2 linked regions of the Homo sapiens genome follow. The protein of the gene in region 1 purifies or fractionates together with the protein of each later gene. This does not show direct contact. Each region holds a gene or a part of one and is shown in the gene's direction. Other genes may lie near its edges.

Region 1 (3,822 bases):
CATAGAGATGTTGGAGCACAAAGTGAAAGAGTTGTTTCTGTGAATTCACTTTAGAAATCTAGCTGTGAGCTCTGTGTGTGTGTGTGTGTGTGTGTGTGTGTGTCTTTCTGTATGTTTTTCTGTATGTATGTGTGTCTCGGGGTGGGTATTGAAGTCAGTTTGTGTGTGTGTTTATTATGAAAGTTGGTCAGGATGTAGTACTTCCATAACCTTAGGTAAGAACAGGACCTTTGGGTTATTGATTCAACATGAATTCATTTGAAATAGAAGCTTTGTGAAGCTTAGCAACATTTTATTCATATGGTTAATGTGTATAAAACTTAACCCTGAATCTTCCTTTAGCTTTCTTATCTGCATTTGCCAAATCAGTTGATGTCAAACCCCATTCTTCCAGTTGTCCAGGCTGATACCTTGGAATCATTGTTAACTCCTTTGTTCTCATACACCCCATGATCTCCTTCATCAGGAAGCTTACTGTCTTTCATATGTCTGCTGCTCACCACCCCACTGCTATCACCCTGGTTGTAAGCCATCGTCATCTTCTCCCCTCCCTTAGATTACTGCATCTCTGAACTGGTCTCGCTGCTTTTATCATTGCTGTCCACCCCTCCTCCTGCTTATTCTCAACATACCAGCCAGGATTTATTTATTTATTTTGAGACGGAGTCTTGTGCTGTCACCCAGGCTGGAGTGCAGTGGCATGATCTTGGCTCACTGCTACCTTGACCTCTTGGGCTCAAGTGATCCTCCCACCTCAGCCTCCTAAGTAGATGGGATCACAGGCATGTGCCACTGCACCTGGCTAATTTTTTAATTAAAAACAATTTTTTTTTGTAGAGATGGAGTTTTAAAAACTATGTTGCCCAGGCTAGGCTTGAACCGCTGAGCTCAAGTGATTCTCCTGCCTTGGCCTTCCAAAGTACTGGGATTACAGGCATGAGCCACCACGCCTGGCCCAGGATAACTCTTTTTTTTTTTTTTTTTGAGATGAAGTCTAGCTTTGTTGGCCAGGCTAGAGTGCAGTGGTATGATCTTGGCTCACTGCAACCTCTGCCTCCCGGGCTCAAGCAATTCTCCTTCCTCAGCCTCCCAAGTAGCTGGAATTACAGGCACATGCCACCACACCCAGCTAATTTTTGTATTTTTCGTAGAGACGGGGTTTCACCATGTTCGCCAGGCTGGTCTTGAACTCCTGACCTCAGGTAATTTGCCCACCTCGGCCCAGGATAATTCTTTAATAGTGTAAGTCGAGAACTATCATGTCTGTGCTCAGAGCTCTCCACTGAGTTCACAGTTTCCTTAGAGTACTGTAAAAGCTAAAGCCTTTATATCCAGCATGGCCATTCTGGCTCTCTGGTATCTCTTTGACCCCACTCCTTACCTTTTCCCCCTCGTACACTGTGTTCTCAGGCTATACTGGTCTTCTAGCCAGTATATGCTCTTCATGCCAGAAGCATGCCAGACATGCTCCTACCTTAGGATCTTTGCATTGCCTGTTGCCTTTACCTGTAATGGTTTTCCCCTAGATATATGCCTGTTGGCTCACTCTTTTATTTCCTTAACATTTTAACTCAGTTGGCACCTTCTTGGTGAGACCCAGCCCAGCCACCCTGTTTAAAATTACACCTCTCTTCCAGGACTTCTTGTCCACCTTCCCCTGTTTTAATTTTTCTCTATAGCACTTTTCACCTAACAAACATATCATTTACTATATCTCGTTGGCCTCCTTCTGCTGGAATATAAGCTAAATGAAGACAAGTGTTTTGGTTCCTTTTATTCACTTCTATATTCCCAGCTCCTAAAATGCTATCTTAATAAATATTCTTTTGGATGAATGACTTGAATGAATTTGACAAGTTATTGTAATGTATGTGGTACTGTTTTTTAAAGATTATATTCTAGTGCGAGAGACAGAAATAAAGTAAATGAACAAATTATTATGAATCAGTTAATACAGTGAAGAAAATGAACATAGTATTGGATTAGAGATTAGGGAAACTCTATATAGGATTATGGGGTGATCAGGGAAGGTATCTGGGATGAGAGCTAAAGCTGAGACTTAAATAACGATAGAGCTAAAAATTAGTGGCCAGGGATTAAGAAAAGTGGTATAAGCAGAAAATGGCATTTGTAATATCTGAGGTTCAAAAGACATTCCAGTATAGGAAGATAAATGCTTTTGAAGAATGAGTTCTTACTAATATTTATTGGGAGCAGGAATAATGCTTCTGGAGTTTGATTTCATTGTTTTGAGGAGCAACAGCTCATTTGTAGTAACAGGACACACTGTGAAAAGTGCTAGATACCTGGATTACATGCCCTTTCTCTGTCTCTCTGTGTTCCTCTAGTAACTTGAGTTTATCTCATTGTACTTACATATAGGGGTATAGTTTGGTGTCTGTCGTGCTACGTTATTCTGTGAAGGGAGATTCTGTCCCGTTTGCATTTTTGCTATTCCCACTCTTCACTCATATAGTACCTTTGTATGGGACTTAGAAAAAGGCCTTCTCATTTATTCCTTCACCCTTGGCTAGTGCTGATAAACCCCTGCATGTCCTACAATGTCTGCTAGTTAGTAGGTGCTCAATAAGTGTTTAATGATTCATGGCTGTTATAGCTGCTGAGTCAGTTAATGCACATATACTTAAAGAAGTAGGTGTACCTTATGATAATCATTTCTGTATTTCTGTTGATTAACCTAGAGTACTATAGTTATGGAAGTATTTGTACCTAGTTTCTGATTTGATTTTTCTTAGTTTCAACCTCCAAATTTGTATAACCCCAAGTATATTAGAGAGAATTGTTTTGAAGCAGGAATGACTCATGATAATGTAAATCCTCTCTTTAGTAAGGGTTCATAATATGGCTGAGGTATAGCTGCACTTTAATTTTGAAACCTGTTTTTCCTCTGACTCTTCAAGAAATATGTTTATTTTAAAAAATATAGAATTAGATGAAGCAGAAAGTGAAAAGTACACCTAACCCCACCACCAGAGCTAATATCACAAACCCTTTCTTTCATTAAACAAATATTTATTGAGCATATGTATCACTAGGCTTACAGTGATGAGTGAAAACAGATACAGCTCTTCTCGTGGAATTTACATTCTTGTGGGGACAGATTTGAAAGGTAAATGTAAAAACATAGGTGTGGTAAGTGCTACAAAGTAGGAGTATGTGATGCGGTAAGCATATAAGAGGGGGACTTCTAGCCAGGACGGTTTGGGAAGACTTCCCCGAAGAAGGGATGCTTGAGCTGAAAGAGAGGTGAGGTGTGTGTGTGTTTTGTAATGTGATAGATTCATTTGTAATTCATGATATACCGTAATTTTATAAGGTTTTCATTTATGGCTGAGGTACCACTGCATCTCTTTTGGTACACTAATGACGTTCTGTGTTCAGTCAGTGGTTGCAGTTTTTCAGAAGAATCAGGGAACCTCACGTACACAGGAATTTCTAAATATTATGATTACCTTGGTTTTCTTTCTAGCTTTGAGGTCATTTCTCTAAGAAATGACAAAATACATCAATAAAAGGGTATTATCAAGTCAAGTCTTCATAAACCAAAGGTATACTATGAAAGGCCAAGATAATAGCAGATAATGGGTTCATAGCTGTTAAGTCCCTCCAGTTTCTAGTGTAAGAAGGAGCATACCTTCCTGTCTGTTCAATTATTGGCTCTCTGTGCTTGGTGTACATTTTTTTAAACTCAATTTTAATGCCCTATTTCTGTTGGCTATCATATGGAAATAAATATAGGATAAAACTAAGTGATAGGCTAAATGGCATATGAAACTCTTTATAGCCCCTGTTCTTTTTTCC
Region 2 (3,822 bases), on another chromosome or scaffold:
ATGTAGAAAGACATTTAATTTTAGATTTAGGAGGCCAAGAAAGACTAATTTGGACTGGGCATGATGGCTCACACCTGTAATCCCAGCACTTTGGGAGGCCAAGGCGGGCGGGTCACCTGAGATCAGGAGTTCGAGACCCGCCTGGCCAACATGGCAAAACCCCGTCTCTACTAAACATACAAAAATTAGCTGGGCATGGTGGCACATGCCTGTAGTCCCAGCTACTCTGGAGGCTGAGGTGGGAGAGAATCACTTGAATCCTGGAGGTGGAGGTTCAATGAGCCGAGATTGTGTCACTGTACTCCAGCCTGGACAACAGAATGAGACTCTGTCTGAAAAAAAAAAAAAGTAATTTGAAAAACAAGGGCTTAAATTTGATTGATTTTCCAGTTAATTATATCATGAACTAGATGTTTGGGGGAATTGGGCTTAGTTAAAACTACTATTTTTTCCCCAGGGTTAGCCTGTACTATTTGCAAGCGCCTATTATATATAAATGATCAAAACTAACTTATACCAACTTATAAGGGAAAGCATACCGATGCCCATGTCACCACTTCAAAGTACTTGATGGTTTAATTAATGATAATTTATTCCTGAGTTAACATCCTTACCTATACTTGCAAAATGTACTTCATTTCATTTGTGGCTCTAGCGTTGACTTATTATAATAGGACTTCAAAATACCCGATCAGAAAATCATTGCATTATAATTAGAGCCGATAGGAACAAAGGACAAAAGGACATATTACCTTTTTTTTTTTTTTTGTGAGACGGAGTTTCGCTCTTTCACTCTTGTTACCCAGGCTGGAGAGCAGTGGTGCAATCTTGGCTCACTCCAACTTTCACCTCCCGGGTTCAAGCGATTCTCCTGCCTCAGCCTCCCATGTAGCTGGGATTACAGGCATGCGCCACCATGCCTGGCTAATTTTTGTATTTTTAGTAGAGACGGGTTTCACCATGTTGGCCAGGCTTGTCTCGAACTCCTGACCTCAGATGATCTGCCTGCCTCGGCCTCCCAGAAGGTGGGAGGTGGAAGTTGCAGTGAGCCGAGATCACACCACTGCACTCCAGCCTGGGCAATAGAGCAAGATTCTGTCTTAAAAAATTAAAATAGGCCAGCCGGGCGTGGTGGCTCACGCCGGTAATCCCAGCACTTTGGGAGGCCGAGGTGGGCGGATCACGAGGTCAGGAGATCGAGACCACGGTGAAACCCCGTCTCTACTAACAATACAAAAAAAATTAGCTGGGCACGGGCGCCTATAGTCGCAGCTACTTGGGAGGCTGAGGCAGGAGAATGGCGTGAACCCGGGAGGTGGAGCTTGCAGTGAGCAGAGATTGTGCCACTGCACTGCAGCCCGGGTGACAGAGCAAGGCTCTGTCTCAAAAAAAAAAAAAAAAAAAAAATAGGCCAGGTGAGGTGGCTCATGCCTGTAATCCTAGCACTTTGGGAGGCTGATGTGGGCAGATCACCTGAGGTCAGGAGTTCGAGACCAGCCTGGCCAACATGGTAAAACCCCGTCTCTACTAAAAATATAAAAATCAGCTGGACATAGTGGCGTGTGCTTATAATCCCGGCTACCTGGGAGGCTAAGGCAGGACAATCGCTGGAACCCGGGAGGCAGAGGCTGCAGTGAGCCGATATTGCGCCACTCCAGCCTGGGTGACAGAGTGAGACTCTGTCTCAAAAAAAAAAAAAAAAATTAGGCCGGGCGCGGTGGCTTATGCCTGTAATCCCAGCACTTTGGGAGGCCGAGGTGGGCGGATCACCTGAGGTTGGGAGTTCGAGACCAGCCTGACCAACATGGAGAAACCCCATCTCTACTAAAAATACAAAATTAGCTGGGCGTGGTGATGCATGCCTGTAATCACAGCTACTCGGGAGGCTGAGGCAGGAGAATCCTTTGAACCTGAGAGGCGGAGGTTGTGGTGAACTGAGATTGCCCCTTTGCACTCCAGCCTGGGTGACAAGAGTGAGACTCTGTCTCAAAAAATAAAATAAAATAAAATAAAATAAAATACAAAAATTAGCTGGATGTGGTGGCAGACGCCTGTAATCCCAGCTACTCAGGAGGCTGAGGCAGGAGAATCACTTGAACCCAGGAGGCAGAGGTTGCAGTGAGCCGAGATTGTGCCACTGCACTCCAGCCTGAGCGACAGAGCGAGACTCCATCTCCAAAAAAATAATAATAATAATTAAACAAAAAATAGGAATGGGGTCTCACTGCATTACCCAGGCTGGTCTTAAACTCCTATCAGCAAGTGATCCTCCTACATCTGCCTCCCGAAGTGCTGGGATTGTAGGCATGAACCATGACACCTGGCGAAGACATACTACTTTTGGTTGGGATTCTTTATGGAAAGCCCTAAAATATTTTGTAGGCACTATATCAGCAATGTTTACAGGCTGCACTGTGAAACAGGTGTGTTGGAGGCAGACAGACTTTGAAATTTCTGTGTATGGACTTAATTTAAGTCAGACAGGGAGGGTAAAGAGAGCAAAAATAAAAAAAAGAAAATCTTTTTTCTGGAGACGGAGTCTTGCTCTGTCGCCCAGGCTGGAGTGCAGTGGTGTGATCTCGGCTCACTGCAACCTCCGCCTCACGGGTTCAAGCACTTCTCCTACCTCAGCCTCCCGAGTAGCTGGGACTATAAGCGCGCGCCACAATGCCCGGCTATTTTTTGTATTTTTAGTAGAGACAGGGTTTCACCATATTGGTCAGGCTGGTCTTGAACTCCTGACCTCGTGATCCGCCTGCCTCGGCCTCCCAAAGTTCTAGGATTACAGGCGTGAGCCACTGTACCTGGCCTTTACACTGATTTTTAATGCTGAAAGGGACTTTAGAATTTGCCTGGTCTGGCCAGAGGCGGAGGTTGCAGTGAACCAAGATCGTGCCACTGCGCTCGAGCCTGGGTGACAGAGCAAAACTCTGTCTCAAAAAAGAGAAAAAGAAAAAAAGAATTTGCCTGGGCCAACTCCTAATTACAGATGTGGAAACTGACCAAAGATGGCATCCAGCCCTCTTGATTTGGGTTTTCCACAGTAACTCTCATCAGCCTCCTGCTGACCACTTGTTACCATTTTTTTCCAATCCACCATTCTTCTGTTAATCTCTGAAGTCATACAGAACACTTATATGGTGCCAGCACACATGGATATGTGTGTTGGGTTAGCAGCAGGATGAGTGAAATGAAACACTGGTATTTTTTGAGAGATGGGGTCTTGCTTTATTTTCCAGGCTGGAGCATGGTGGCTAGCCACAGGCCTATCACAATGTACTACAGCCTCGCACTCCTAGGCTCAAGCCATTCCGTCACCTCAGACCCCATAGTAGCTGGGATTATACATGTGCTCCACTGCATTGAGCAGTATGTTGATTTTTTTTTTTTCCCTGAGACAGGGTCTTGCTTTGTCACCCACGTTGGAGTGCAGTGGTGCCATCACATCTCACTACTGTATCAACCTCCTGGGCTCAAGTGATCCTCCCGCCTTAACCTCCCAAGTAGCTGGGACCACAGCTGCATGCCACCACGCCTGGCAAATTTTTTGATTTTTTTTTTTTTATTTGTAGTGACCAGATCTCACTATGTTGCCCAGGCTGGTCTCAAACTCCTAGGTTCAAGTGATCCTCCCGCTCAGCCTGCCAAACTGCTAGAATTATAGGTGTGAGCCACCAAGCCCACCCTGTACTTCATTATTAACTTAATTTTTTCAGATGAGAAAATTGAGGCATAAAGAGATTATGTAGCTTGCTCAATACAGCTGAAAAGTGGCACAGTTGGTACTTAAACCCAGATACTGCTACCATGGTTCATATCCTT

Evidence for each region.
Region 2: the proteins of SMAD5 (region 1) and TAF12 purify together in Homo sapiens (affinity purification with mass spectrometry, with the first as the bait; one large-scale study listed by BioGRID). This does not show direct contact.

What each region holds. Positions count from the first base shown.
Region 1 is NC_000005.10:136,139,057-136,142,878, forward strand, and holds part of SMAD5 (mothers against decapentaplegic homolog 5), read left to right. Parts: intron 1-3,822. UniProt on the Homo sapiens protein: Transcriptional regulator that plays a role in various cellular processes including embryonic development, cell differentiation, angiogenesis and tissue homeostasis.
Region 2 is NC_000001.11:28,636,373-28,640,194, reverse strand, and holds part of TAF12 (transcription initiation factor TFIID subunit 12), read left to right. Parts: intron 1-3,822. UniProt on the Homo sapiens protein: The TFIID basal transcription factor complex plays a major role in the initiation of RNA polymerase II (Pol II)-dependent transcription.